Linked DNA regions of Homo sapiens. The protein of the gene in region 1 purifies or fractionates together with the protein of each later gene. This does not show direct contact. Each region holds a gene or a part of one and is shown in the gene's direction. Other genes may lie near its edges.

Evidence for each region.
Region 2: the proteins of TRIM52 (region 1) and MAP7D2 purify together in Homo sapiens (affinity purification with mass spectrometry; one large-scale study listed by BioGRID and IntAct). This does not show direct contact.
Region 3: the proteins of TRIM52 (region 1) and MAPKAP1 purify together in Homo sapiens (affinity purification with mass spectrometry; one large-scale study listed by BioGRID and IntAct). This does not show direct contact.
Region 4: the proteins of TRIM52 (region 1) and DNA2 purify together in Homo sapiens (affinity purification with mass spectrometry; one large-scale study listed by BioGRID and IntAct). This does not show direct contact.
Region 5: the proteins of TRIM52 (region 1) and MCM10 purify together in Homo sapiens (affinity purification with mass spectrometry; one large-scale study listed by BioGRID and IntAct). This does not show direct contact.
Region 6: the proteins of TRIM52 (region 1) and EXPH5 purify together in Homo sapiens (affinity purification with mass spectrometry; one large-scale study listed by BioGRID and IntAct). This does not show direct contact.
Region 7: the proteins of TRIM52 (region 1) and WDR11 purify together in Homo sapiens (affinity purification with mass spectrometry; one large-scale study listed by BioGRID and IntAct). This does not show direct contact.

What each region holds. Positions count from the first base shown.
Region 1 is NC_000005.10:181,253,980-181,258,572, reverse strand, and holds the end of TRIM52 (E3 ubiquitin-protein ligase TRIM52), read left to right. Parts: intron 1-986; exon of another isoform or gene 987-1,078; coding exon of another isoform or gene 1,079-1,159; exon of another isoform or gene 1,160-1,344; coding exon of another isoform or gene 1,345-1,365; exon of another isoform or gene 1,366-1,518; coding exon of another isoform or gene 1,519-1,524; exon of another isoform or gene 1,525-1,713; coding exon 1,714-1,764; 3' UTR 1,765-2,057; coding exon of another isoform or gene 2,058-2,102; 3' UTR 2,103-3,426; downstream 3,427-4,593.
Region 2 is NC_000023.11:20,109,782-20,114,377, reverse strand, and holds part of MAP7D2 (MAP7 domain-containing protein 2), read left to right. Parts: intron 1-4,596. UniProt on the Homo sapiens protein: Microtubule-stabilizing protein that plays a role in the control of cell motility and neurite outgrowth via direct binding to the microtubule. Acts as a critical cofactor for kinesin transport.
Region 3 is NC_000009.12:125,441,342-125,445,937, reverse strand, and holds part of MAPKAP1 (target of rapamycin complex 2 subunit MAPKAP1), read left to right. Parts: intron 1-1,339; coding exon 1,340-1,437; intron 1,438-4,596. UniProt on the Homo sapiens protein: Component of the mechanistic target of rapamycin complex 2 (mTORC2), which transduces signals from growth factors to pathways involved in proliferation, cytoskeletal organization, lipogenesis and anabolic output.
Region 4 is NC_000010.11:68,430,474-68,433,973, reverse strand, and holds part of DNA2 (DNA replication ATP-dependent helicase/nuclease DNA2), read left to right. Parts: intron 1-1,463; coding exon 1,464-1,580; intron 1,581-1,658; coding exon 1,659-1,768; intron 1,769-2,002; coding exon 2,003-2,112; exon of another isoform or gene 2,113-2,117; intron 2,118-3,313; coding exon 3,314-3,500. UniProt on the Homo sapiens protein: Key enzyme involved in DNA replication and DNA repair in nucleus and mitochondrion.
Region 5 is NC_000010.11:13,167,342-13,171,937, forward strand, and holds part of MCM10 (protein MCM10 homolog), read left to right. Parts: intron 1-3,580; coding exon 3,581-3,922; intron 3,923-4,596. UniProt on the Homo sapiens protein: Acts as a replication initiation factor that brings together the MCM2-7 helicase and the DNA polymerase alpha/primase complex in order to initiate DNA replication. Additionally, plays a role in preventing DNA damage during replication.
Region 6 is NC_000011.10:108,506,204-108,510,799, reverse strand, and holds part of EXPH5 (exophilin-5), read left to right. Parts: coding exon 1-1,263; 3' UTR 1,264-4,596. UniProt on the Homo sapiens protein: May act as Rab effector protein and play a role in vesicle trafficking.
Region 7 is NC_000010.11:120,853,740-120,858,335, forward strand, and holds part of WDR11 (WD repeat-containing protein 11), read left to right. Parts: intron 1-2,012; exon of another isoform or gene 2,013-2,391; intron 2,392-4,596. UniProt on the Homo sapiens protein: Involved in the Hedgehog (Hh) signaling pathway, is essential for normal ciliogenesis.

The sequences.
Region 1 (4,593 bases):
AAGTCACTGCTACCTCTGTTACATTAACCTGACTTGAAGGACAAATCCTAGTACCATGTTTTCACCCAAGGTGATAACTAAAGTATCCCATGGAAAAAACTTATGTCCTATGCTTCTGGGTTTTAGTATACTGAAGCTGAGGAAAAGAGAGAACCTTCCATTTCTCTTCTAACTTTTTTTTTTGAGACGGTATCTTGCTCTGTTGCCCAGGCAGAAGTGCAATGGCATGATCTCGGCTCACTGCAACCTCCGTTTCCCGGGTTCAAGCGATCCTCCTGCCTCAGCACCCCTAGTAGTTGCGATTACAGGCACATGCCACCATGCCCAGCTAATTTTGCATTTTTAGTAGAGATGGGGTTTCACCATGTTGGCCAGGCTGGTCTTGAACTCCTGACCTCAGGAGATCCACCACCTGGGCCTCCCAAAGTGCTGGGATTACAGGCATGAGCCACTGTGCCCAGCCTTCCTCAGCTAACTTTTATCATCATCCCCTTCCCCCATTTTATAGTAAATATTGTTAAGTGCACAGTTAAGACACAAATCTTTTTTTATTTTTATTTATTTATTTATTTACTTATTTATTTGAGCTGGAGTCTCGCTCTGTCATCAGGCTAGAGTGCAGTGGTGCGATCTCGGCTCACTGCAACCTACGCCTCCCGAGTTCAAGCGATTTTCCTGCCTCAGCCTCCCAAGTAGCTGGGAATACAGGTGCGCACCACCATGCCCAGCTAATTTTTGCATTTTTAGTGTAGACGGGGTTTCACCATGTTGGCCAGGATGGTCTCAATCTCTTGACCTCCTGATCCCCCCGCCTCGGCCTCCCAAAGTGCTGGGATTACAGATGTGAGCCACCATGCCTGGGTGTCTCTTTCATTCTTTAGGCAGTTCATTGTCACTTCCTTCCATTGGTAAACATGTAAATTATAGTCGCATGATTTAGAATTTTACTGACCAAAGTCATAATAATAGTTAACAGTACAAGGAACTATTTTTGTATAATGGTTTATTTAATACAGTATACATTATCTTTCATATACTTTGTTACAATGTTAAAAAAACTTCATTTTTCATAATATAGGAAATAAAGTTGGAAACAACTCTGGTGGGAATACTTCAGATAGAGCAAGAAAGCATTCACAGCAAGGCCTATAATCAGTAAGATGTGTGAAAAGTTGGGTAGCCACAGGAGGTGTTCATTAAGGATATGATTCCATTTATATAGCTATTTCTATTGCATAACCAGGACAGTTTTATTGTTTTGAGGTCAATGTTCTTTTAAAATTTGATTTTCTGTAAGAAGAGGCTTTTTGGCCCAGAAAGCCTTACTTATTTTACATCTTCCAGTTTGTCCATCCCATGAGTTAGAGTTCGTCTTGACTCTGCAAGCTAGAATCAAAGAATTATGAAAGTAAGATCATTTAGATTTGACCAAGGGCACCATTAAATGGTGTCAGGTTTTAGGAAGCAGACGGGTGTATAAAAAGAAAATGAACAAAGATTTCACTTATTGGGGATCAGGCATAACTGGATGCCTGGATTGTCCTGCCACCCAGCTGCCACCAATAAAATCATTCATCACTCTGCAAGAGGGACCAGATGCTTCCATCATCAGTACTCCTTGTTTTTCTGTTATCTCCTTTGAGGTAGCTAAAAATGGCAGCCAAAAAAAAATGTTGAGGCTTTTCTCAAGTATATACTCATGTTATTTTGCAGAAGATAGGGTCAACTTCTTCAGTTGAGTTATCTGAAAGTGTTGGGCAGTGACACCATGCCAAACACTGTTAAATTCATGCCATTAAAAACAGTGGAGTGTTCTGCAAAGCCCGATTCTCTGCAGCTTTAAGACTGGACAGTATTGAAATATTCACAGGAATCTTCCAAGCCGTGAAAGCTTAATATTAAACAGCCCTTTTAATTGCAAAGGAGAAAAAAATGGAGACACTTGTGAAACCTTGCATTCTGAGTGCTGCCACAAATAAATTAAGGAATTCCAGAATTTCTTCATCTACTTCTGCAGTCTTAACTCTGAATTAATGACTGTATATATCAAACTTCAGATCTTAAAAAACATCAGCTCGCAAGAGGCTGAGGCAGGAGAATGACATGAACCTGGGAGGCGGAGCTTGCAGTAAGCCGAGACTGAGCCACTGCACTCCAGCCTGGGCAATAGAGCAAGACTCCATCTCAAAAAAAAAAAAAAATCGGCTCATCTTTTATTGCTGTTGGTTGAGATGAATCTACTGATGAAGAAAACTGTACTTTGCTTACATTCAGAATAAGGCTTTCAAAACTGTGGGTGTGCTGTTTTCGTGAGCCTTCTACTTGACCACCAAAGACAGTATTTTTGCAGCTGTATCAAATGAACCGAGTTGGAGGAAATTGTATAGGAGTATATCTTAATGGCACTACAGCAAACTGTGTTAAATTTGGGTTTTTGGCAAAGATTGAAGAAAACTGGTATTCAAGATGTACTGCAGCTGTCACCACCAAGCATGAACTTTCACTGATTACCCATAACCTACTGGAAATCTTCAGCCTTGCTGTCAGCATAGACCACTGTGAGAAACAGTACATTCCATTCCAGTTTGCCCTGCTTTTTGAAGATCTAAATGCCATTCCATGTTTTCTGTTACATATTGAAGTTTCTTGGTTGCCAAAGAAAAACGGATTCTGCTGAACTTGTGGACAGAACAACCCCAAGGTTGGAAGAACAATGAAAAATAATCTATACTTGAACATTTCAAAAGTTAAAATTTTCAACAGAGTTTTAACACACTGAAGCTTAAAATACATTGACACTGAAATGTCAATGGGCAAACACCAATTTCGCCGTTCATTATGAAATACATCAAACAAAACTTGCCAAAAATACAACCATAAAAATATAGCAAATGTATGTATGAGCAAACTAATGCTAAAAATGTCTAATTTTCTTGGCTAGTCTTTCAAGGACCAGATTCATGAGTGTTATTTGAAGGGAAAAAGTGAAATACTTGGAATTATTTTGAGTGATGTGCTCCTGAGCTTGTTCTTAAAATCTACCAGTGGTAGCTTTTGGAAAGAATGTGTTTCATACCGATGTGCAGGCCTCACTGGAAGAGCTTCAAGAGGAGTTTGTGAAACTCAAAGTCTAATGGTTTTGATTAGAAACTTCCAGGCAAATACTCCAGAGAAACTTGGGTGTAAAATGACTAAACAGATGAAAAGGCTTTATCCACTATTCCATTTGCTCCTTACACCTTAAAAAGCTTTTTTATTTTTTAATGTTTTGATATATCTAGCTTTGGGGAGAAAGCAGTGCAAGAGTGTTATTAAAAGCAGCTTGTGTTTTCTTGCACCTTTCACACCACCCAGGAAAGAAAAGTTCAGGCTTAACAGTGACATGGCTATCACATCATCTGAATAAATTTTTTCCTTCTAAAATTACTACTGCTTTCATTAATTTCAATCATGATACTTAATTTTGAAATTGTAAATGGAGGGGCAAATGTGAGATTTTCAGGTATATGAAAAGTAGAAGTGTGGGTTACAAAAACATTGAGGAAAAACATACAGCTCACCTGTTTATTGAATGTCTTCCCTATTAGGTTCAGCTGTTCACTGCTGTATCACAAGTCAGACTGTTTAAACTTGTTCCTCTACTTCTGTGGCTGTACCCTGGATCTCATCTTCAGATTGGCTACACATCTGAAATCAACTCCCATTGCACTATGACCTTAGCTCTTAGCCTTCCAATACACTTAAGCACACTCCAATTACACCTGCCCTTCAGCTTTAGGGAGCCCACTGTTTCACTGACTCCATATTTTTTCCTTCCCAATTTATCAGACATTTAACAGCCTTACTATCCTACTGAGCCTAGACTGCATGATTCATTTTGGCATAAAGACCTGATACAGGCCGGGCGCGGTGGCTCACGCCTGTAATCCCAGCACTTTGGGAGGCCAAGGCGGGTGGATCACGAGGTCAGGAGATCGAGACCATCCTGGCTAACACAGTGAAACCCCGTCTCTACTAAAAACACAAAAAATTAGCCAGGCATGGTGACGTGCACCTGTAGTCCCAGCTATTCAGGAGGCCTGGGCAGGAGAATCACTTGAACCCGGGAGGCGGAGGTTGCAGTGAGCCGAAATCGCCGTCACTGCACTCCAGCCTGGGCGACAGAGCGAGACTCTGTCTGCGGGGGAAACAACAACAACAACAACAAACCTGATTCATGTTGTCATCTAAACCGGATTGATTGATTGATTGATTTCTTTTTCTTTCTCTCTCTCTCTCTCTGTTTGACAGAGTCTCGCTCTGTTGCCCAGGCTGGAGTGTGGTGGCACGATCTCGGCTCACTGCCAGCTCCGCCTCCTGGATTCATGCCATTCTCCTGCCTCAGCCTGCCGAGTAGCTGGGACTACAGGCGCCCGCCACCAAGCCTGGCTAATTTTTTGTATTTTTAGTAGAGACAGGGTTTCACCGTGTTAGTCAGGATGGTCTCGATCTCCTGACCCCGTGATCTGCCCGCCTCGGCCTCCCAAAGTGCTGGGATTACAGGCGTGAGCCACCGCGCCCGGCCTCTTTCTTTCTTTCAATGCTTTTGTTTTT
Region 2 (4,596 bases), on another chromosome or scaffold:
ACTCTGTTGTCCATGCTGGAGTGCAGTGGCACAATCTTAGCTCACTGCAACTTCTGCGCCACCATGCCCAGGATCCCAGCACTTTGGGAGGCCGAGGCAGGTGGATCACTTGAGGTCAGGAGTTTGAGACCAGTCTGGCTAACATGGTGAAACCCTATCTCTACTAAAAATACGAACATTAGCCGGGCCTGGTGGCGCATGCTTGTAATCGTAGCTACTTGGGAGGCTGAGGCATAGGATCGCTTGAACCCAGGAAGCGGAGGTTGCAGTGAGCTGACCTCGCGCCACTGTACTCCAGCCTGGGTGACAGAGCGAGACTCCGTCTCGAAAGAAAAACAAAATAGGGTGGGGCCTGGAGATAGAGAGTAGGTGGTTATTGGAGACTGCGAAGGGTACTGGGGGGTGGGAAGGAGGTAGGAATGGTTAATGGGTATAAAAAAATAGAATGAATTAATAAGGCCTGGTATTTGATAGCACAACAGGGTAATTATAGTCAATAATAATTTAATTGTTCATTTAAAAATAACTACTAGTATGACTGGATTGTTTGTAACACAAAGGATAAATGCTTGAGGGGGATGGCTAACCTGTTTTGCATGATATGATTATTTCATATTGCATGCCTGTACCAAAACATCTCATGTACCCCAGAAATATATGCACCTACTACCTACTATGTAGCCACAAAAATTAAAAATTGTAAAATAAAAAAAAAAGTAGAGTGGGCCCGAGTAGCAAAGGCATTGGGTCCCCAAGAAATCGGAGTTCTTCATCCTTTTTCAAAGTTGTGTTTAAAACCATTCTTGAACGCTTTAATCCTAAAACTGTTCAGATCGCTGGGCGTGGTGGCTCACGCCTGTAATCCCAGCACTTTGGGAGGCCGAGGCGGGCGGATCACGAGGTCAGGAGTTCAAGACCAGGCCGGCCAAGATGGTGAAACCCTGTCTCTACTAAAAATACAAAAATTAGCCAGGTATGGTGGCAGGCACCTGTAATCCCAGCTACTCGGGAGGCTGAGGCAGGGAATTGCTTGAACCCGGGAGGCGGAGGTTGCAGTGAGCAGAGATTGAGCCACTGCACTCCACCCCGGGCGACAGAGTGAGACTCCGATCTTAAAAAAAAAAGTGTTCAGATCAAGAAGAACAAGAGAACAAGTTGAGTTTGTGCCTCTAGAGTCTCTTTGGTAGTAGGAAGGACCACAAACTTCCTACAAAGTTGTATTTGGTTTGTGGCTCCTGGCTTTTTTTACTGATGGCAGCATAGGACTTAGACTTAGCAGGACCTTCAGGACAAACTGCTGAAAGTCTTTGTGATTTCTCTTCTCATATCCTAGCCATGGTGACATAGCTGCTCAAAGTCTGTCATTTCTAACCTGCTTCCTCTCCAACATGAAAGGATGTTTTCCTCTCAGGTGCCCCATCTTCTGCAGTGGCTAGTGTTTTAAAAGAACACTTTGTCTTCTTGTAATTACATTGATTGCCTTACAAAACAGAAGGATTCACAAGGTTGATTTGGGCAGGCGAGAGATGGAGATTTCTGGGGGCTGTTGGTAAATATCCTGGTGGGTCTTGTTGAGAGGATTTGATGAGATATATTGGCTGGTGATACAATGATACTGCCTGGTTTTAGGGGGCTGTTCATGTGCTAAGTTGGCTCAGGCGGCAGTTCCAAGATTTGAAAACTTCCCATGGCCCTGCCCTCCGGTCCCTTTTGAAAGGAATTTCACCAGAAGAAGGAAGAGGGGGTAGTAGAGGGCAGCCGCCCTTAGGGAGGGAGTGTCCACTGTCCACCTCACATCTGAGTCGGCCGCATTTAAATATGGAGTTTACCGTCTTGGCATCTGAGGCTCTGGGTCTGACTAGGCCTTGGGATCCCGCCTCGTCTGCCTCTGAGGTCAGTCTGAATGCAAGCCCCCATCTGCTTTTCTGTTGGGAAGCATTTGTTTTCCTCTTGCCTAGGAACTTTTTCTGTTTTTAAAAGCCTTGTGACTAGCAGAGTTTGGGTTGTCATTTAAGCGAAAGGAAAACAGGTATGAGTGAGCCGCATGCATGCAAAGCATTTGAGGCAACAGCAGTGATGCCAAATGCCTGAGATCCTTGGAATGACAGGGTCTGTCCCCAGGGCTCCTAGCTTCTGACCAGTGCTGGGTTCGTTCACCACCTAAAAAGACTTGGCTTTTCCTCTCAGTGCCAAATAGGTTGGTGCCTTGTAGCCCCCAGGCAACCCTTTGGAATGTTCCTTGCTCCTTTGTCATCTCACCCGCTTCATCCGTCCCACCCTCTGTGTTTCTGTAATAACAGCTTTATGGCTGGTCGTGGTGGTTCACACCTGTAATCCTAGCACTTCAGGAGGCTGAGGCCCACAGATCGCTTGCACTCAGGAGTTCAAGACCAGCCTGGGCAACATGGCAAAACCCTGTCTCCACAAAAAATACGAAAAATTAGCTGGGCGTGATGGCACGTACCTGTAGTCCCAGCTACTTTAGGGGCTGAGGCGGGAAGATTGCTTAAGCCCATGAGGTCGAGGCTGCAGTGAACTGAGATTGTGCCACTGCACTCCAGCCTGGGTGACAAAGTGAGAGCCTGACTCAAAAATAAAAATAAACAGCTTTATCATCTGTATAAAATTCATATGCCATATAGTCCACCCATTTAAAATGCACAATTCGATGGTTTTTAGTATATTCACAGAGTTGTGCAGCCATCACCACAATCAATTTTAGAACATGTTCACCACCCCACAAAGAATCCCCATACTCACTGACATTCTTCATTCCCCCGGCCTCACAACTACCCATCTGTCTATATAGAGACCACGAGACTTCTGCCGGGACAGTCTTCAGCCTTTGGTGCAGACACGCGTTGCAATTGCCTAGAAGTCTGTGGGTGGGTCTTCATGCATTAGAGGTTTAGAAACCAATATTCTGCATACTCTGTCCTTCAGGTCTAAGACGCGCTTTTACCCTGAAGCCTTGCCTTTTCACCTCCTGTACATTCCCACTCCACAGGGCCTGCAAAGCGCTCAGAACCTGAATGTAATGTACACAGCGGTCTGCAGTTATATACTGCACATGTTCATTTTAGCTTCCCAGACAGTAATGGCCGCTAATTGTTGAGCACTTATGTGCCAACCCTCATAGTTCTGGGGGTTGCCTGGGCTTATTGGAGAAGTTCTGCTGCTCCATTTGGGGTCACCTGGAGTCCCTCATGCTGGTACAGTCTGCTGGTCTGCTGGGAGCTCAGTTGGGCTCGAAATGTCCAAGATGGTCTCTCATTGTCCAGGTACCTAATCACAGAGAGTCTGTCCTGGACTTTCTAACAGCGTGGCTGCTGTGCTTTGAATAAGGAAGCAGAAGTTGCCAGTTCTCTTAAGGCCTGCACATAGAAGTCCCAGAATGTCATTTTTGCTGTGTTCAGTGGTCAAAGCAAGTCCCAAGGCCAGCCTAGATTCAAGGGGAGAGGAAATAGACTCCACCTGTTGATGTGAGGGCAGCATGCACCTACTGGGAAATGAGAAATTGTTAGTGGCCCTTTTGGAGAATATCTACTGTAATAGGCAAGTACAGTCGTTCCTTGGTATCCATGGGGGATTTGTTCCAGCACCTCTCAAGAACACCAAAAATCAAGGATGCCCAAGTCCCTGATATAAAATGGTATAGTATTTGCGTGTAACCTATGCACATCCTCCCTTATACTTTTTTTTTTTTTTTTTTTTTGAGACAGAGTCTCACTTTGTCACCCAGGCTGGAGTACAGTGGCACGATCTCAGCTCACTGCAGCCTTGACCTCCCAGGTTCAAGCAATCCTCCCACCTCAACCCCTCCAAGGAGCTGGGACTATAGGCATATACCTCTATGTCTGGCTCATTTTTGTTTTTGTTTTGGTTTTTTTGAGACAGAGTCTTGCTCTGTCACCCAGGCTGGAGTGCAGTGGTGCGATCTCTGCTCTCTGCAACCTCGCTTCCTGGGTTCAAGTGATTCTCCTGCCTCATCCTCCCAAGTAGCTGGGACTACAGGCATGCACTAGCACGCTCGGCTAATTTTTTGTATTTTTAGTAGAGATCGGGTTTCACCACGTTGGCCAGGCTGGTCTTGAACTCCTGACCTCAAGTGATCTGCCCACCTCAGCCTCCCAAAGTGCTGGGATTACAGGCGTGAACCACCGTGCCCCTCCCTCCCTTACACTTTAAATCATCTCTGGGTTACTGATAATAAATGTAAATGCTATGCAAATAGTTGCTATACTGTGTCGTTGTTTTGGGAATAATGACCAAAAAAAAAAAAAAAGTCTGTGCAACCATCCACTTTATTTTATCTGAATATCTGAATCTTTTCTTTTTTTTTAAGATGGAGTCTCACCCTCTTGCCCAGGCTGGAGTGCAGTGGTGCAATCTCGGCTCACTGCAACCACTGCCTCCTGGGTTCAAGTGATTCTCCTGCCTTAGCCTCCCAAGTAGCTGAGATTACAGGCCTCTGCCACCACAACCGGCTAATTTTTGTATTTTTAGTAGAGTCGGGGTTTCACCATGTTGGCCAGGCTGGTCTCGAACTCCTGACCTCAGGTGATCCGCCTCCCAAAGTGCTGGGATTACAGGCAT
Region 3 (4,596 bases), on another chromosome or scaffold:
ATATTAGAGATGTCACCTGCTGCTCCTTGGTCTAGGAAGGTTTACTGAATACTGACTACGTGTCTCTCTTGGGCACTGTTCCTTTGCTTGCCAGTAATGGAAACCAACTTCAGTAGCTTAAGGCGAAAGAAGAATTTCTTGGAAGGCCACAGGAGTCTCCTAGAACCCAAGGATAACAGTGCCGATAGGCCGGGGCAGCCCCCATGGGCCTGAGCCTGGGAGTCCCAAAGCCCCTCATCTTATTCTCAGTCCTTGTGCCAGTTTAGACAGCCTAGCATCTATGTCTGCATTTAGAAGAGGGAATCCGATTGACCTGTCTGGACATAAAAGGACAGGCCCAGATAATGTAGCCATGGCTGCAGGTATGATAAGACAAGCAGGTTCCTTTGGAGGGCCACGGTACCGTGTGGTAGGCCCACACAAGAAGTGCGCCTAGAAGTGTGGTTATGAAGACTCACCCAAGAAGGCGCCAGCTGAGCTGAGCCACCCAGGATCAGCAAATCTTTCCCATCCGGGTCAGTGAGAGAGGACATCCCAGGCTTGGGGAAGAACCTGTGTAGAGGCTGGTGTGGCAGGTGGGAGTGTGCAGCACTCTGGCAGCCTGTGGCCTGTCGGGGCAGCGGAGTGAGATGAGGCTAGACCAGGAAGCAGTCCCAGAAATGACAAGTGTCATCCTGAAGGTGGTAGGACGGGGCATGGAGAATGGAGACCTAGATCAGATTTATATTCAGAAGCTCTGCCCCCTGGAGTCGGTCGCTTTGTGAGGTGCCCACTTTCCATGGTGCCCCCCCCGCCCCCATCCTCCCAGGGTTGAGATGACCTGAGGCCTTTGGGAGCAGCTTCCAGCAGGGTCTAAAACTGGGATTCTCCCTCTCCAGGCAGGAGTCCTCTCCCAGCAGGAGCCCAGGCTGTGGAGCAGCCTCATAATAGTGTGGCTTTTGACCCTTCTCCTTCCTGTTGCTCATTTATCTGACTTTAAACAGTTAGTTTATTTTTAGAGTAATAATGTGGAGTTAATTAGCCTTCTCCCTTAAAAACGCCACCTTTTGCATGTAATTATCATATAGCAGCAGTTCCGTAAAGCCTTCCTAACGTGGCATTCCCCTGAATGCATTCCAGAGTGGAATGGGACCTAACTGGCTGTTGAGTCTTTAAAATTTTTTCATTGTCCATTTTATACCCAGCCTGTAATGAGAAAACGAACTACTCCTGGGAAGACTAGGTGCTGCTCAGCCTCCACTTGCTCTCGCTCGAATTGGAATGATAGGGGAGAACATATGGAGGCCCCCGCCATAGTTAACTCACCAGAACCCCTCAACACAGTTTTCTGTCTCTGCAGGTCACGCAATATTTAAACTCACGTATCTAAGCAATCACGACTATAAACACCTCTACTTTGAATCGGACGCTGCTACCGTCAATGAAATTGTGCTCAAGGTGAGTATTCCTTCTTGAACCAGAGACAGGGTAGGTGGGTCCAGCTTCTCTTCAGGCTGTTTGCGGCATGGCCGCAGCCCCACCCACTCCGCAGCTCTATAGAAGGTTCCCGGGCCCAGTTTGGCAGAGGAGGAGTGTCGCAGCTTGCCAGCCACCCAGGGGTGAGTGCCTGTGCCAGGGCCACACCAGCCCCCGCTCAGCTGCTCTGCACCTGCTTCAGTCAAAGCAGGACCCTTTTCAGTTTCCTCCCAATCCCAATAACCCTGGCTCTTCCTGTATTTGTTTATTCCTTTTATGTACTGTTTATTTTCCTGCAACCATTGTCAGGAGCTCCTTGAAGCTCCTGGAGCAGACTCTGAGGAAATTATTATTGTTTTGAAGATAATTATGCTGAAGGTGATTTTAGCAACCTGTTCTAAACATACCTAACTTTCTGCTAGACTTGTATGTCACCATACCTAAACAGTATACTCACTGAGCACCTTCCGTGTGCCTGGCCACGGCCTGGGATGCCACGGTGACAGACTCTGTCCCTGCCCCTGGAGAGCTTTTCCTCTACCAGAGGAAACAGGCATAAAACACAAAATTACAAAGAGATCGTTAGTCTCAAAGGTGTGGGTGTGTCACAGTAAACTGACTTGGGGTGGAGGTATGGAGGCAGGGAGAGCTGAACCCTGAAGGATGACTGAAAAGGCACAGATGTTGACCAGGTAAAGAGAGAGGAAGCACCACAGACAGGCAGCCTGGGAATGGGCTGAGGCAAGGCAGGCACAGGGGGATGGGGGGCTGGGGGGGCTGGGGGAGCTGGCGGGGCTGGCGGGGCTAGGCCGTGCAGGGCCTTGCAGAGTGGAGTGTGGCTGAGAGGAGCTCTGCTTGGCATGGGAGCCTCCAGGGGTCTTGCGGATTTGGGAGGTCTGGGATAGGACCTGAGATCATACGTTTCCAAGAAGCGCCAGATGCTGCTTTGGCCGCTGGTCTGGGCACCACACTCTGAGTAGCCCTGGACTAGGGGTCTCAGCCTCTCCCAAGCAGAGAATCCTTTCTTCAAGCCAAATCTTCCATAGGTTGATCAGATAGGAAAAGCAGCTGCTGTGGCAGAGCAGGGGCGAGGACCAGAGAGGGCTCCCCCACCCCTAGTTGTGTGACCCTGGCTAGTCACATCACCTTTCTGGGACTCAGTGTCCCCACCTGTAAAGTGGGGATCATAGTACCTATGCTACCCCACCCCACCAGGGCTGCTAGAGTACAAATCAGATGAGACATGGTAAACCTATGTAAGTTATCATTCAGTCTCTTCTGAAGAGTTGAAGTCATCACATAATAGCAGAAGTAGCGAAGATATGCTGAGGGACTGCACAGTGCAGGACCTGGGCCAGAGGCTCCACGTGTCCCATCACAGTGCATCTTCACAGCTCTGTGAGATCATGAGATAAAGTTGTTCCCATTTCCCAGATGAAAAGTGAGGATCAGGAATAAAGTAGCAGAGCCAGGATCATGACTCTGGTAAGTTGGCAGAACCAGAACTTGCCCCCAGATTTGACAGATTTCAGACTTGTGTTTTAATTCCCCAGATATGCATGACCTAAGAGTTGTGTGGGAGATTTCAATGAAATAGAATTGCGATCCAGGAATATATTGAGACACATTCCCCATGGCTGCAAAAGATTTTCAAAAGGAGTAGGTAGCAATTTAAAAGAGCAGCTGGAAGGACAGTTTGGAGCAGACAGAGTAGCATGATTAGCTGGATGAAAGGGAGAGGGTTCATAGACCAGCCTGATCAGAGCCCCTCCTTGGACCAAGGAGTGGGGACACGGGCCTGCCTGGGAGTGCTTGCAGCCAGCGAGCTTCGAGTTACCCACTGGAGCATCACAGACAGCACGGGCCCCTTGTGCAGAGTGTTCAGGGACCTGGCAGAGAAATATTCCATTACCCCGATAGGGGCTGGACTTTTTTTTTTTTTTTTTATAGCCAGCATTAAAATATTCAAGACTTGAGAAGGATTCTAGTAAAATTATAATCCCATGTTTGACATCAAAATAATTTTCACAACAGCAGATTGATGACAGAAACACAGGTTTATGACTTCAGTATGAGACTGTGGAAGATCAAGTGCAGAGAAATCATTTTACAGGTCCAAATGCTCCCTCGAAGCAGATGCTTCTCTGCAAAATCCGTGAGGTCTGTCACCTTCCCTAAAGTGTCTGTTTCCATATCAAAATATTTGCAGAAATATTGTGTCATGCACAAGACTCCAGAAGAGTTGTAGCATACCCTAGGCCTGATTTACTTAGAGCTAATGATCATGAGCCTGATGGAAGATGAGATAGTACTTCTCCCACCTCTGATTTTTTTTTTTTTTTTTTTTTTTTTTTGAGACAGAGTCTCACTCTGTTGCACAGGCTGGGGTGTAGTCGTGTGATCTCTGCACACTGCAACCTCCACCTCCCGGGTTCAAGTGATTCTCCTGCCTCAGCTTCCCGAGTAGCTGGGATTACAGGCACCCGCCACCAAGCCCAGCTAATTTTTTTCTATTTTTAGTAGAGAACGGGGTTTCACCATTGGCCAGGCTGGTCTCGAACTCCTGGCCTCAAGTGATCTGCCCACCTCAGCCTCCCAAAGTGCTGAGATTAAAGACATGAGCCGCCAGGCCCGGCCCCATCTCTGATTTTTATAGCAATTGGAATACTTAGTTTTATCCACCATTCCTGCAGTGTCCTGAGTGTGTCTTTGTGAGCTTTGCACCAGTACCAAGCAACGGAAGCCCAGCCCTGTGTCCGGGAGCTTGGGAGAAATGTTGTTGCCATCAGAAGCTCTTGAGGAGTCAGTTTAGACTCTAGTAATGCATGCTGTTGTTCTAGAATTCAGGAATTTTACATAAAATGAGAGCTTAGATGGAAATTGAAGGGAGGAAATAAGAGCCACAATCTGATGTCAAATAAACAATCATGAACAAAGCCTCCATCGAGCTTTTTGCGCTTGTAGAAATAGGAACGTCTCCCATTTATTGAACACCAGCTACATGCAGTACATCTAATGTCCATTATCTTGTTTAATCTTCCTGACCGCCCTCCAGAATGTAGACATTGTCCCCATTTTATAGAAGAGGAGATGGAGGCCCAAGGTCACAGAGCACACAAGGGTGGAGCCTCTACTTGAACC
Region 4 (3,500 bases), on another chromosome or scaffold:
AGCTAATTCTGAATCTTCATCCTGTGGATTAATAAATTAGTCTGGTGAAACAGTGTGAGAAGAGAATACTATACTGGGCAAACCTGTTGCACAAACGTGTGATGTAGTGTGACATGGAGCATTCAGGATAATGCAGGTAATTACGTTATTTCTAGAATATAAAATATAAGGAAGAGAGTAATTAGATCAGGTCATAGAATGTCTTACGTATCATTTTAAAAAGTTTTCCATCCTGGGCCACATAGTGAGACCCCCATCTCTCCAAAAAATTAAAAAATTAGCCAGGTGTGGTGGTGTACACGTGTAGTCCCACCTACTCAGGGGGCTGCGGTGAGATAACAGCTTGAGCTCAGGAGTTCAAGGCTACAGTGAGCCATGATCATGCCACTGCACTCTAGCCTAGGCAACAGAACAAGGCCCTCTCTCAAAAGAAAAAAAGTTTAGATTTTATTTATTCTATTGAATAAATAGAATTGTATTGAAAGGTTTTAAACAGAAGAGTGGGTAATCATTGGATTTGCATTTTCCTCTGGCTACATTGTAGAGAATTGAGTTCATTAATGGAAGAAAAACTAAAAGCAAACCTGGAAGCTGTTGCAGTGACCCAGGCTAGAGGAAATTGAGGCAGGGTAGTGTTGGCAGAGAGAATGGAATGACTTTGAGAAGTATTTAGAAAGTAAAAGTGGCTGGCATTTGGATACTGATTGGGTGTGTGGGTTGGGGAGAGGATGAGGGAGAGGGAAGGATCAAGATGGCAGTGCAAATGCAAATGCCAATGCCATTAACTGTGATCAGGACCAGAGAAGGAGCATCAGGTTCAGCAGGGATGAGGAGGAGTTCTGCTTTGAAAGTACTGTGCTTTCACAGCCTGGGTTTAGCTAAGTGGAGAGATCTCACTGCCTACTAAATATCCAAACCCAAAGCTTGGGTGAGGAACCAGGTAGGAGAGGAGTGTGAGGTCAGGCCTAAAGATGGAATTTGGAATTTGGAGGCACGTGAGGGCCTGGGACCCTGGAGCAAACAATGAGAAAGAGTAGTACAATGAACCAGGGAAGGGACTCTAGGGAATACCAGAGCTTAAGGGACAGATAGAAGACAGGGAGAAGGTGGCAGAAAAGAAGCCTGCACTCCAGGTTAGAGGAAGGAAGAGCCATGCATTCAGGATCCCTCTGGGGATGGTGAACCCGTGTTCGACTGCAAGGGTAAATGAATTTTCAGCAAATGTTGCAGGTTCCCAATTATTAATTGCTTTGACCTTGGTGCCTTGGACCTTCCCCTTCCCTCTGCCTTTTCCCACCAATCCAGGGCCTCATGCTGTCCTTGATTGGCAAGTGTGACTGAGGGCTGGTAGCTATTTTAATAGCTATTCTGGCCCATTCATTCTTTTAGCAGATAGCAGCATATTTCTTATACAGACTATGCGAAATGGCGAGCATTCATGTATATTTGTTTTGTTGTTTTAGAAACTTGTCGGTCCTTCCAGAATCAACTTTGTTCAGATTAGACCAAGAAGAAAAAAATTGTGATATAGATACCCCATTAGGAAATCTTTCCAAATTGATGGAAAACACGTTTGTCAGGTTTGTAACAATGAGCAAATTTGAATTTCACTCCACTTTTCTAAGGAATATTACTAAAAGTGCTTTTTCACTTTTCAGCAAAAAACTTCGAGATTTAATTATTGACTTTCGTGAACCTCAGTTTATATCCTACCTTAGTTCTGTTCTTCCACATGATGCAAAGGATACAGTTGCCTGCATTCTAAAGGGTATGCTAAAATCACCATGTCTGCTTTGATTAATTTTTCTTGTTTCTATTTGATTTATACTGTAGTCTAATATCTTGATTAGACTTGCAACTACAATGTTTAGACCAAGACTCTTTGGAAATGGTTTTGTATTGAAGAATAGACTTGGATAGAGACTGCTTTTCTTATGAAATAATTAACTTTTCCTTTGAAATTCAACACTCTTTTTCCTGTTATTTTTGAATTTAAATGTAGGTTTGAATAAGCCTCAGAGGCAAGCGATGAAAAAGGTACTTCTTTCAAAAGACTACACACTCATCGTGGGTATGCCTGGGACAGGAAAAACAACTACGATATGTACTCTCGTAAGGTTATTATTCTTCTGCTTAGAGACAAAATATTTGTATCAGCTTCTCCTCAGTTCAGAGGATGTAATATTGAATATCAAAAGGGCTGAATTTTAATTCAGTGTCTTTGTTTCAAATGAACTTTTTAGAATGATGAGAAATAGTAAAGCTGAAGCACAAACAGTTGTAATCATGTAGATTTCTCGCATTTAGAATTTTCTAAGATCGCTTTCCGTTAGTGGTATGTGATATTTATCACTATATGTTTTCCTTTCCCTTTAAAGATGATGTTAGAGGCCGGGCGTTGTGGCTTACGCCTGTAATCCCAGCACTTTAGGAGGCCAAGGCGGGCGGATCACTTGAGGTCAGGAGTTCAAGACCAGCCTGGCCAACATGGTGAAACCCCCTCTCTACTAAAAATACAAAAATTAGCCGGGCGTAGTGGCATGCGCCTATAATCCTAGCTTTACTCGGGAGGCTGAGGCAGGAGAATCACTTGAACCCAGGAGGCAGAGGTTGTAGTGAGCTGAGATCACGCCATTGCATTCCAATCTGGACAACAAGAGCAAAACTCCATCCTAAAAAAAAAAGATGTTAGAGATTTTTCTTGGATTTTTTTTTTCATGTCAGTAAATTTCTTTTTTTCTTTTCTTTTTCTTTTTTTTTTTTGAGATGGAGTCTTGTTAACGTGAGCCAGGCGAGGTGGATCATGCCTGTAATCCTAGCACTTTGGGAGTCCAAGTCAGGGGGATTGGTATTTGAGACCAGGTTGGAATGCAGTGGCATGATCACAGTTCATGCAGTCTCAATCTCCTGGGCTGAAACAGTCCTCGTTCCTAAGCCTCCCAAGTAGCTGGGACCACAGGGGCGCACCACCTCATTTGGCTAATTAAAAAAAGAATTTTTTAAAAAGAGATGGCATCTCACTTTGTTGCCCAGGCAAGTCTTGAATTTCTGGGTTCAAGTGATCCACTTGCCTCAGCCTCCCAAAGTGCTGGGATTACAAGTGTGAGCCACCATGCCTGGCCTATGATGTATTATTGACATATTATTAATAACGTATAATAATGTCATGTAATTTTTGTAAAATGTTTTGGCTTCATAATTTTTACTTGGCTCAGCTCTTAGATATGGTTCTTGTTAAGTTTATAAACATGTTAAAAATTATCTGGAATTAAAAGTAAGGCTGTTTTTTCTTTTTTCTCTTACCCATTATTAGGTAAGAATTCTCTACGCCTGTGGTTTTAGCGTTTTGTTGACCAGCTATACACACTCTGCTGTTGACAATATTCTTTTGAAGTTAGCCAAGTTTAAAATAGGATTTTTGCGTTTGGGTCAGATTCAGAAGGTTCATCCAGCTATCCAGCAATTTACAGAGCAAGAAATTTGCAGATCAAAGTCCATTA
Region 5 (4,596 bases), on another chromosome or scaffold:
AAGCTGAAGAGCTGCTGGATGTGAATACTAGAGTGAGCGGGCTGAAAGGATGGGAGGTTGGATCACAGAGGGACGTTCAGAGGTCAGTTGTGCTTTGCTGTGATGAGTTGGAGTTACTATGGGAGTGGGTAGCTAAGATGGGGAGTGGATGAGAAACCCAGCGACCAAGATGTTGGCTGGATCATCCTTGCGGAGGTTGAAGTGCCCCAGGAGGGTGATAACAGTAGAGATGGAGGGGAGGACCGGGGGGGGCATGCATGATACACATATGATGATCAGCACATGACAGTGCCATGAGGGGTTCTTGATGCCAGCGTCTGGTGTCTTGAACTTCAGAGAGCTGTGATCTGGAAAAAGACTGAATCATTCCAAAGTGACAGTGATAAAGAAGACATCAGGAACCTGAAGTTGATCAACAAGTATTTGTTGCATGCCTAATACGTGCCGAACACTATTCTAGACATTGCCATGTGAGGTGTGAACAATTAAATGCTTTCCATTCAAGAGGCTTCCAGGGGTAGCCAGATTTCTGTTGTAAGAGCCACTGGGGATCCGAGAAACGTGCTGATAGTAGATTTCACATCCCAGGGGTTTGAGAACAAAGAGGCTGGGAGATTGAGTCAGCGTAATACAGAGAAGACATGATTTTTGGTGGTGACTGAGGTAAACGGGGTTGTGAGGCACCATGGGATTAGCCCTCGTTCTCTTGTGAAGGGTTCAAAGTGAATAGTATGGGGTCCCCAGGCAGCATTTTCCACCTGTGGCCCCCAGTGGTGTGAGCCAGAGCCTCTTCCCGGGGTGTGCCCTCTTTGGCAGACGGGAACAAGAGATGGTGGAGGCCTCTTTGCTTCCTTGCAGGCATGTGACATTCTCAGAGCACAGGGGGCTGCCTGGCCTCTTCTCTCTTGCACTGTGCAGCCTTGGAGTCTTTGTGGACTAAGCAACTCAAGCTAATCCTTATACAACCTCTGACTGAGCATTAGGCCCCATCATCAGATTCTAGGCCTGAAGTTTGGCTACTGGCTTTTTCCTTCTGGTAAGGGAGTGTAGAGTGGTGGAAAGGATATTGGTTTGCTGATCTAGAGATTCCTTATTAACCCAGCTCCTGAACTGATCTGTTTCTCCATGTGATCCTGAACAAGCCCCTCACCCTCTCATACTCTAGCCCCTGAATTTCAGACAAGGAGAGTAGGTCAGATATCCTTAATATTTTTCCATTGAATACCTCTGATTTTATAAACAAATAGTGCCCAAATAGGGGGGAAAAAAGAGCAAAGAAAATAGATAAATCAAGAAAGAAGAAATCCGATTGGCAAATAAACAAACAATTCTTAACCTCACCAGTAATCCAAGAAATGCAAATCAAAACAGTGAGATGCCTTTTTAAATCGTCCATCAGATTGACAAAAAAATATTTAAGTGACACATCAGATATTGATGAGGTGGTGGGGAGAAGTGGCCCTTGTGTACAGCTCTAGTGAGAGTGATACAGATGATAGCAATTATTTAGGGAGATAGTAAGGGCAACAGAGTCCTCAGCAGAATTTCCCTTTTAGCAAAAAGCAGCCCCCAAGTAATTTCTAACAAGGCCAGCCAGAAAAATCAAGCGGACATAGAAAAGCAAGCTAGTAATTTGCACGGATGAATACCTGCAGCTGTGCCAATAGGAAAAGGCTCCCTGGGGGCCAGGCGTGTTCAACATGGCGGCCCTTTTTCTGTGTCAACCACGTGTACAGTAAAGAAACAGACAATATGGCGCTGGCCAGGTAGAGAACCACCTGCATAATAAAAGATTAGGGTGGGGCAGCCAGGTTTTCCACCCTATGCAAATGGCATACCTAGTCCAGCCAATCTTTTATGTCCTGTGTAAATCAGACATTGCGTCCTCAAGCTCGTCTATGAAACCCCATGCATTTTGCCATGGACGCGGCAACCCATTTCTCTGGGACCTCTCTGCTGCCGAGAGCTCTTCTCTTTCTTTTGCCTATTAAATCTCTGCACTTAACCTCACTCCTTGTGTGTCAGCATCCTTGATTTCCTTTGCATGAGACAACGAACCTCAGGTATTACCCCAGACGAACTATGCCATTTCAAGAGTGCATCCACTTTGAGAACAATTTGGCAGCATCTAGCAAAATTGGAAAACGTGGATACCCAGCAATCCAGCAATTCCATTTCTGATAGATATTCCCAAGAAACACATGTGCGAGAAGACGGATACACGATTACAGCGTATTTAGTAGTGGGGAAAAATTAGAAATAGCCCATATTGTCCTTTATTGGAAAATGGATTAATGAGGTGTGATACAGTCTTATTATAGGATACAATATAGCAACGAAAAGAAAGAAACTAGAACTATATGGGGTTTTTTGTTTGTTTTTGAGATGGAGTCTCGCCCTGTCACCCAGGCTGGAGTGCAGTGGTGCGATCTCGGCTCACTGCAACCTCCACCTCCCAGGTTCCATCAATTCTTCTGCCTCAGCCTCCTGAATAGCTGGGATTACAGGCACGGGCCACCACGCCCAGCTAATTTTTGTATTATTAGTAGAGACGGGGTTTCACTTTCTTGGCCAGGCTGGTCTTGAGCTCCTGATGTCAGGTGATCCTCCTGCCTTGGCCTCCCCAAGTGCTGGGATTACAGGCGTGAGCCACCACGCCTGGCTAGAACTATATGTTTTGATTTGGGTTAATCTTACAAGCAATGTTGAATGAACCTGGAATGCAGAGTAATGCAGTGTGGAATATTTATGTAAATATTTTTAAAACCATCTAATATAGATTGACTATGACTGCCTATATATTTATGTAAAAGCATAAGAATGGACTGGAATGATGCCTCAAAATTATGAAAGTGATTACAATGGGAAGTGGGGGCAGTGGTCAGGAGTTGGGATAAGATTTGGCATGACAGACTTCATCTGGAAGGTGTTATTTAATGTTAAAGGCAAGAAGCAAACAACAAAATGTTAATGATGGCTAATTCTGGGTGATGGGATCTTAGTATTTTTTATATAGTTTGTATCTTTTTTTTTTTAAATCTCAAATAATTTGAAGGTCAGGAATTATATACATCTAAAGCCTAAATCTATGTTTGGTGTTTTAAAATTATTCCCTTGTTGGTTGAATTTCATGGAAGTCGGTGTGCGGGAAGCTGTCTCATTGATTGGAGTAGAATGCTTGAGGACATTTGGCCCCGTGGCTGGCCCACTCTACTCACTAAGCAGTATTGGCTCCTTCTTAGCCCAGTGTCCCCTAAGAAGCACCTGGGGACAAGAAAGATGGAGACAAGGAGAACAAAGACCAGGCAAAATGGTGCATCTGTAGGTTTTTGTTTTTTTTGTTTGTTTGTTTGTTTGTTTTTTTAGTTTCAGCTTTCATTTTAGATTCAGGCTTGTTACAGAGATGTATATATAGTGTGATGCTGAGGTTTGGAGTATGGTTGAACCCATCACCCAGGTAATGAGCATTGTACCCATTAGGTAGTTTCTCTTACCCCCATGGGGTCATTTAAATTGCCTAAAGTTGAATGTTTGGAATTAGCCGTGCTTATTCTCTGTCCTTTCTCTTCTTTTCCCCTAGAGGAGGAAGACAATCTGTCTCTGCTGACCGCACTGCTGGAAGAAAATGAGTCAGCCTTGGATTGTAATTCAGAAGAAAATAACTTCTTGACGCGGGAAAATGGCGAGCCCGACGCATTTGATGAGCTCTTTGATGCCGACGGCGACGGTGAATCTTATACAGAAGAGGCTGATGATGGAGAAACAGGAGAGACAAGAGACGAAAAGGAAAATCTGGCCACTCTCTTTGGAGATATGGAGGACTTAACAGATGAAGAAGAAGTTCCCGCATCACAGTCAACTGAAAATAGGGTCCTCCCTGCTCCTGCCCCCAGGCGAGAGAAAACGAATGAAGAGTTGCAAGGTGCCCTAACTACTTGCCTTCCTTATTTCTTTCGGATAAGTTGGATGAAGACCACCAATCTGATAGTTGTCATCAAAATAGCTGCTGATTCAAGGGTAGAGATAAATGACTTTGTAAAAAAAGAAAAAAAGAAAGAAAATTATATGAGTTGGTAGATGAAATGTTTGGGCCAGCATTTCAGCACAAACTATAGACTCTATCAGTGTCAGCCAGCTGCACTTGATCCTGTACGGAATGGCTCTGAAACTTTTCATATTTCTTATGGAATAGTAGCACTTTGGGATGTATGTGGATGTGGAGCCAGAGACAAGGTTGCAAAGCTGCCACATATCTATTTGAGCAGAGCATTCCTGAACAGAAGCTTTGACACATGTTCTTTTCTCATTCCTGGCATCTCATACATGTTTAAGCTATAGTAAAATTCAATGGTTAGCTGTTTCTTCTAATACAGAAGCCAGCATTTATTATATTAGTTATGATATCCAATTTATGAAGTAAATATAATTTTTTTTTTTTTCCGAGACAGATTCTTGCTGTGTCACCCAGGCTGGAGTACAGTGGTGCAATCTTGGCTCACTGTAGCCTCCACCTCCCAGGCTCAAGTGATCTTCCTGCCACAGCCTCCCTAGTAGCTGGAACCATAGGCATGCACCACCATGCCCAGCTAATTTTTT
Region 6 (4,596 bases), on another chromosome or scaffold:
CCTGAAGGAAACAAAAATAAAACCAACTTGGATGACCTAGTAAAGGGGGAAAATAGATCTTCAGTTAAACACAGATTGGCAGCCATGTCTAAAGCCAGCAGAAAATTCCCAGCTAAAGATGTAAGCCCCAGAAGACATGTAGCTACTATCTTCCCCCAAAGTGGAAGCAGATCTGGCTTTGACCATTTATCTCTTGGCACAGTGGAGTGCAACCCACTGTTCCCTGAGCCTACTCCAAAATCTGCAGAGTCCATTGGCGAAAGCAGGTTGAGTGAGAACGGAAAGCATGTGAAGAAATCCGAGAACCTTCTCCCCATTACTGTACTACCCAACAGAGAACCTTCTACACACGTCAGCAACCAGAAGTCTAACAGCATTTCACAACGACATCAGAATGAGTTTAAAAACGTCTCAGAATCACCATCAAAGCATGAGAATTCTAAAGACGTCACAGCAGCTCAGAATTTAGTAAGAGAATCAGGAGCCCCATCACCCATCACATTCACCAGCCTCAGGGAAGCAGAATTCTCTGACAATCAGAGGAGGCTGAGCCCTCCTTTTCCACTGGAGCCTGCACAGAAATCTAGAGTAAGCAGTCCACTGGCCAGTTTTCTGCAGCAACAAAGGAGTGCTTCATCTCTGGAGTGGGAACCTGAGCCACACCTCTATCGTTCAAAGAGTTTAAAAAGCATTAATGTTCATGGCGATCTACTACGAAAAAGCCATCCTCCAAAAGTCAGGGAGCGCCATTTTTCTGAAAGCACTTCTATTGACAATGCCCTGAGTCGACTGACCCTTGGGAATGAATTCTCTGTCAACAATGGGTACAGTCGAAGATTCAGATCTTTTTCTGAACTCCCCTCCTGTGATGGAAATGAAAGTTGGGCTTATCGCAGCGGGACAAAAACAGGTCCCAGGTCTGCAATATCTATATACAGACCTATCGACTATGGGATCTTTGGGAAAGAACAACAGTTAGCTTTCTTAGAAAATGTAAAGAGGTCACTTACACAAGGAAGATTATGGAAACCAAGTTTTCTTAAGAACCCTGGCTTCCTAAAAGATGATTTGAGGAACCCTCCCAACCCCTCAGAGTCATTAAGCTCAAATTCTCCCAGTAGTCAGGTGCCAGAAGATGGCTTATCTCCAAGTGAACCGCTTAATATCTATGAGGATGACCCAGTGGACTCAGATTGTGACACAGACACAACCACAGATGATGAATACTACCTGGATGAAAATGACAAAGAGTCAGAACTGTGAGGCTTTTTCAATAAAATGCTTTACTTTTTTCACCAAAAGCTTATAATGGAACTAAGGTGTACATGTGCATGTGCATGGAAGGATAAAAGATCTAGTCTGGGCAGTGTCTGCTCTGAAATGTCCCACATCTCCTTTTTTTTCCTCCACACCCTATATAGACACTTCCTGAATGCTAGAACAATGAATTCTTGTTTTGAGAGAGTCTCTGCTATTTTCTATCTCTGTAAATGTTCTTAGCCTGCCTTTCCACCACTCCCACTTAATCCCTGATTCACTGTCTGATTTGGGCTTTCTGCTTTACTTCCCTCCTAACATTTTTCATCTTTAATTGTGATTTACAACCCTAATATCCCAGGCACATACAAAACTTATGAATTACCCAGCACAACTGTGAAACTCTGTATTGCTTCTTCCGGTCCACACCCTATACTCATGACATTAAATAAAAGGTAGGGATGATAACAGTGGGGTAAATATTATCATCCTGTTTGACTCATGAACATTTAGGAAGTTTAAGGTGGTGATCTTCTCTTTCAAACAAAGATAAAGGAATTTATTTTTTAACCTGAGAAACTGATTGCAAAAAGGAAAAAAAAAAGATAAAGGAATTTTGTAAGTACTTCCTGTTATATCCGTAGTGGAGCCTGGGAGGCACATGGTCAAAGCACATGTTGAGGTTATAGATTAGGACCTGAATCCCTAGTAAGCCAATAGAAGGTTAGCAGTCCTAGAAATTCCTCTGAAACCGTGGGGGACTGGCTGGATTATTAAGGGCTTTTAGTCAAGCCAAGGACTTAGGCCAGGCAACCTGACCATACAGAAAGTTGCCTGGTCACAGAATTTCTGCTTATGAAGAGAACATAGCTGAGGAGCAGAGGTAGGAAGTAGGTATCCCTTCATGGGACCGACTTACCTTTACTGCAGTTCTCTCAGCAACTGGCTTTTCCCATTTCCTCAGAACTATCCATTTTCACATTTTCTTTTTTTTGTTTTTGTTTTTTGTTTGGTTTTGTTTTGTTTTTGTTTTTTGGAGACGGAGTTTTGCTCTGTCACCCAGGCTGGAGTGCAGTGGCATGATCTGGGCTCACTGCAACCTCCGCCTCCCGGGTTCAAGCGATTCTCCTGCCTCAGCCTCCAGAGTAGCTGGGATCACAGGCGCACCCAGGCGCACGCTGCCACGCCCAGCTAATATTTTTGTATTTTAGTAGAGACGGGGTTTCACCGTGTTGCCCAGGCTGGTCTCGAACTCCTGAGCTCAGGCAATCCGCCCACTTCAGCCTCCCAGAGTGCTAGGATTACAGGCATGAGCTACCATGCCCAGTCTTTTTTTGTTTTGTTTTGTTTTTGTTTTTGTTTTGAGGTGGAGTCTTGTTCTTGTTGCTCAGGCTAGAGTGCAATGGCATGATCTCAGCTTACTGCAACCTCCTCCTCCCAAGTTCAGGCAATTCTCCTGCCTCAGCCTCCCAAGTAGCTGGGACTACAGGCACCCACCACCACACCTGGCTAATTTTTTTTTTTTTTTTTTTTTTTTTGGTATTTTTAGTAGAGTTGGAGTTTCACCAGGTTGGCCAGGCTGGTCTCAAACTTCTGACCTCAGGTGATCTGCCCACCTCGGCCTCCCAAACTGCTGGGATTACAGGCATGAGCCACCGTGCCTGGCCCACATTTTCTTTAATTGCAAGGTAGAACGCTTCTTTTCAGGTGGGGCATTTTAGTCCCAAATATCAAGTGGGAACCTTGGCCAAGTCCCTAAAATGCCATCAAGTCAGATCTGACACCCTGGAATTCATTCTTTGCTGCAGGATCATCTACGAAACCCTTGGGAAATTCTAAGGCAGAGCTCCTAAGGGCTTGTCACTATGATTCAGTGATTTATCTAGAGTAAATCACTTATGATACCCACTGATATTTTGGCTTTCCTAACTCTTTATTTGCCATGCAGAACCTCGGGGGATTTCTCTCCTAATTCAGGATAAAGACCAATAGATGGCAGTGAAGATAATCTGCTTTAACTACAGACAGCATGGATTCCTGGATCTCAATACTATGATAGTCAACATGAGTGGATTTTATCTTGCTTGGTTTATATTTGCTTCGCGACCTAATCTAATTTTCCATTTTTTATACCTAGTCTGTTTCATCATTATAAACTAAGAATAATGATAGATGTTGGTGAAGTGTATAGAGATCTGGAACTGATAGAGAGTTAAGAAAGAACTATGTTGTTGTTATCCTTCTAATCATTCCCTTACATAGACGCAAAATGCGTGGGTTACTTTACATGGTTCCCATGCAACTCAAAGCTAATGAACATGCGGTAACTAACATGAAAGCTATTCCCTAAATCTGTCAACTATTTTAAACTTCAAGCTCTGACCAATCCTGAGCTCAGAAAGCTCAAAAATCAAATATTGTGAACTTTTCAATGCAAATTTGTATGGTAAAGAATAAATAACACTATTTCTTGGTTAATATATGTTTGTAAATTCTGCCTTTCCTCTTTTTCTATTTATCTGATTATTATTATTATTATTATTATTTTCTTTGAGACAGAGTCTCACTCTGTTGCCCAGGCTGGAGTGCAATGGCGCAATCTCGGCTCACTGCAACCTCCGCCTCCCAGGTTCAAGCGATTCTCCTGCCTCAGCTTCCCGAGTAGCTGGGATTACAGGTGCCCACCACCACGCCCAGCTAATTTTTGTATTTTTAGCAGAGACGGGGTTTCGCCATGTTGGCCAGGCTGGTTTCGAACTCCTGACCTCAGGTGATCCGCCTGCCTCAGCCTCCCAAACTGCTGGGATTATAGGCATGAGCCACCTCGCCAGCCCTATTTATCTGATTATTTAAGTAAAACTTTAATAAACCATGACCTACATTTTCTATGCAATTTTAAGATACTCAGAGTTAATATTTTAATATTGAGGTTCTTGATTTTTTTAATGATCAGCTTTCAAATTATATTTCAGTATATACTCTGAGTCTACGTGTATGCTACAAAAGGTGAAATGAAGTTAGCTTATTTTTCAGTGAGTTTAGGCTATATTAAGAGTTAGGTAAGTTAGGTAAGGGTGAAACTGCTTTGGGGCCCAGACTGCGCTGGAATGTACTGTTTAAATTCAAAGGTAATTGATGGCCAGTGTTCAGTTGCTCTATTTGTAACGTTTGCATGTTGGTCTGGCTGAAGTATCAGGAAAACACAAAATTCATGAAAATAGCACCTTTTATAATTTTATACTTTTATAAAGCACTTGTTAAAGAAGTATAGCAAATTTCTATGTATTTTAACATACAAGTCGCTGCATTTTAATGTTCATTTTTGGTATAGCTATGGTA
Region 7 (4,596 bases), on another chromosome or scaffold:
ATGGAGAAGTCATGTTTAAGAGCAGCAAAGAGGTAAACCTGATAGCCTTTATAGTGATCAGTATAAAGGAGAGTAAGAGAATAGAGTGACTCCAAGGTTTCTTTTGGTGTAATTGAATGACAGTGTTTCCAGTTATCAGAGGTAAGCATCTGTGAAGTCAGTGAATTTTTAAGTTTTCAACATGCAAAATCTGAGATGCCTGTAATATATTGCATTATAGTGATCCGGGCTTTAGGAGATAGGTCAGGATTAGAGATAGAGATTTGGAGTCTTTTTCTTTTTTAAATAATAGCTTTATTGAGATACTCATACCATAAAATGTACTGACTTAAAATGCACAATTCTGTGGCTTTTAGTATATCCACAGTTAATGCAGCCACAATTACAATGAACTTTTTTACCTCAAAAAGAAACCCTATATCCACTAGCAGTCATATTCCATTTCCCCCATTTCCCTCATCCTTTGGCAACCACTGACCTACTTTCTGTGTCTGTAGACTGGCCCATTCTGGGGATTTTATATAAATTGAATCATATAATTTGTGGTCTTTTGTGCATGACTTCTTTCACTTAGGATAATGTTTTCATGGTTCATCTGCGTTGTAGCATATATCAATACTCTGTTACTGATGAATAATATTCCACTGTAAGGATGTATCACATTTATTTTATTGATGGACATTTGGATATTTTGTACTTTTTGCCTGTTACGAATAATGCTGCTTTGCACATTCATGTGCAAGTTTTGTGTGAACCTGTGTTTTCATTTCCCTTGAGTATGTTTCTAGGGGTGGAATTACTGACTCATATGGTAACTCTGTTTAACTTTTTGAGGAACTGCTGGACTGTTTTCCAAATTAACATTCTCATTAGTAGTGTATGAGGAGTCTAATTTGTCCAAATCCTCACCAACGCTTGCTGTTCTCTGTTCTTTTGATTATAACCATCCTAATGGGTATGAATTGATTCTCATTGTGGCTTTGGTTTGCATTTCCCTGATGGCTAAAGGTGTGGAGTATCTTTTCATGTGCTTATTGGCCATTTGTATATCTTCTTTGGAGAAATGTCTATGCAGGTCCTTTGCCCATTTTAAAATTGTATTATTTATCTTTTTATAATTGAGTCGTAAGATTTCTTTGTATACAGTAGTCCTCCCTTATCCAGAAGGGAAATGTTCCAAGACCCCAGTGGAAGCCTGAAACCCTGGATAGTACTGAACCCTATATATATTGTGCTTTTTCTCATACATACTTACTTATGATAAAGTTTATAAACCAAACCCTGTATATACTGTTTTGTCTCATACATACTTACCTATGATCAAGTTTATAAATTAGGCATAATAAGAGATTAACAACAATAACTAATAATAATAAAGGAGAACAATTATAACAATACATCAGCATTACTACTCTTGCACTTTGGGGGCATTATAAAGTAAAATAAGGGTTACTTGAACATAGCACTGAGATATCACAACAGTTGATCTGATAATCAGTATGGCTACTGAGGGCAGGTGGTGTATACAGCATGGATGTTCTGGACAAAGGGATGATTTATGATTAAGGCAGGATGGAACAGGACAGTGGGAGATTTCATCATGCTATTCAGAAAAGCGCATAATTTATGAATTGTTTATTTTTAGACTTTTTTGTGTCATATGTTTGGATTGATACATGATTTGCAAATATTTTCTCTCAATTTGTGGGTTGTCTTTTTACTTTCTTGGTGGTGTCTTTTGAAGAACAAAACTTTTTCATTTTGATGTAGTCCAATTTATTATTTTGTATTGTTGTTGCTTGTACTTTTTGTGCCATATCCAAGAAACCATTGCTTTCTCCAATATCAAGAAGATATATACCTTTGTTTTTTTCTTAGAATTTTAGAGCTTTAGCTTTTAATCCATTTTGAGTTAATTTTTATATATGATGTGAAATAGGGAAAAATACTATTAATTTTTGTTTATTGATCATATCCTGTAATCTAGCTAACTTCACTTAGTAGATCTATTTAATAGTAATTTTGGGTAAATTTTTTTTAAGTAGACAGTCATGTCACTGCAAGTGACTGCAGTTTAATGTTTTCATTGATAATCTGTGTGTCTTCTATTTTTCTTGCCATGTTGCATTGGCTAGGACCTCTACTACAATGAATGGGAGAGTAGTGAGAGGATACTCTTGTCCTGTTCCTGAGCTTAGGGGGAAAGTATTCAGTCTTTCATCAAGTCTGATGTAAGGTATAGGGTGTTTTGGGAAAAATATATTTACCTTCTCTTTCCCTCTCTGTTTCCTTTCCCCTACACTGCCCCTTGGCATTTCTGGAGCTTTTATTTCTTTATGTAGGTCCAAGTTTCAGTCTGGTATTATATTCCCATCGACTGAAGAATTTACTGTAAGTTCTTAAAGTGCCTGTCTAATATTGGTTGATTCTCTTAGCTTTTATTTCTCTGAGAAAGTATTTCACCTTTGTTTTCGAAAGATAATTTTCAAAGGATATAGAATTCTGGGTTTATAATTTTTTTTTCTAGTAGTACTTTACAAATATCATTCCATTGGCCAGGCATGGTGGCTCACACCTGTAATCCCAACACTCTGGGAGGCCGAGGTGGATGGATCACCTGGGGTCAGGAGTTTGAGACTAGCCTGGCCAACAAGGCAAAACCTCATCTCTACTAAAAATACAAAAATTAGCCAGGCGTGGTGGTACACACCTGTAATCCCAGCTACTTGGGAGGCTGAGGCAGGAGAACAGCTTAAACCTGGGAGGTGGAGGTTGCAGTGAGCTGAGATAGTGCCACTGCACTCCAGCCTCGGCAACAGAATAAGACTCTGTCTCCAAAAAAAAAAAAAAAAAAAAATCCCTCCACTATCTTCAAGCTTACATAGTTTCTGATGAAAAATTTTTGTTTTTGTTTCTCTGCATTATATCTTTTTTCCTCCGATTATCTTCAAGATTTCCTTAACCTTGGTTTTCAATAGTTTGATTATTAAAATATATATATATATGGCTTGGAGTTTACCTAAATGGAATTCAACATATACATATACAAATATATACACATATACAAACATATATATACACATAGAGACAGTCAATTCTTGTTATTTGTGGTAGCTATATTCTGTAAAGTTGTTGTATACACTGAATTAGTGAATACTGAAACTTTGTTTGCTCCTAGGGGTTAGGTTCTTGTGAGGCTCTGGTCACAACATTTTCATCAACTGATCAATAGATAACCTTGCTTTATATGTGTTTCCGTTTAAAGACATATTAATATGTCAGTTGATCTATTAACATTGAACTCATAGCCAACAACACATGCCTGAGCAAAGATTATCACATATATATATATGTATGTATTTTTTGCAAGACACATCACAACTTCTCATACTTAGAAACGGTAGGCAGTATGCTTGGGGACCTATTTAAACAGTGAAGTCACCAGCAAAAGGAACAAAAATGTGAAAAATGTGGTACTAAATAAATCATGAGATGAACACTTGTTTTGCCATTGGAAAAGCTAAAGCAAGAATTCTTGTTTGACTTCAGCTGGGAACACACATGTATGTTCGGTGACATTTTTTTCACCATTCTGCACTTGTCCACAAAAGCACTGCAAGTATTGATTTTGAGGTTGCAAATTATAGTGAGTAGGTAAATTGACAAATACAGAATCTATAAATAACTAGAATGGACTGTGTACACATATATACACTATACATATTCTATTCATACACATTCTATACCTATGAACTTAAACATATACACATACAAATATGCATACACACATACATATGCATATATACACATACCTCATTTAAAAATTTTTGCCTGAGCAAAAGATCTATTACAGGAAAACCTTAAGGCCTGTTCACGCTCATTTTCAGAAAACGTTGTTTCCATCTTTTTCATGAATACTACTGCAATTGGTTGGCTTACTTTCCTACCTTAGCATTATATATGAGTGTATTTATATCTGTACACATATATAGGTATATACATTTATATGTATTTATAGATTTGTGGTATTTAAATCTACTTATTAAACAGACCTTGGACACTGTACTAAGTCTGAGAATAGAAATGCAAACAAAGACCACATGGTGTGCCCTATGGAACTTACAGTTGATGGACTCATGAATAGGCAAAAAGAATGTAAATAAAATAAGTACAAATTGTGTAGTAGTAAATGCTTTGAAGAAAATAAGCAGGATACTGAGAAGAGAGGGGTGGTAGTGACCAGGGAAGGCCTGACTCCTAGTGAGGACTATGAAATTTTTCCCTTATTCTGTCAGTATTCATTGTTCAAGAATTTAATCAGATTTGCCCTGGAGTTCATGTGTTTTTTATTTTAAAAATTCTATTGTTAATCATGTTGCTATAGGCATGAAGCATTTTTTTTTTTTTAGAGAAAAACTTAATGTTTTGTGAAAGAGAGAGACAGCTAGAGTTTTTTGTTTGACTTTGCCTTCTCCTGACTTTCCCTCTGCAAGGTTTTTGTGTTTCTAAGTTGTCTTCTTTTAGTTAGGAGACTAGAATACAGAAAAACATTCTGCTAAATATGATTTTAGGTATTTTGTCATAAATTAGATCTTA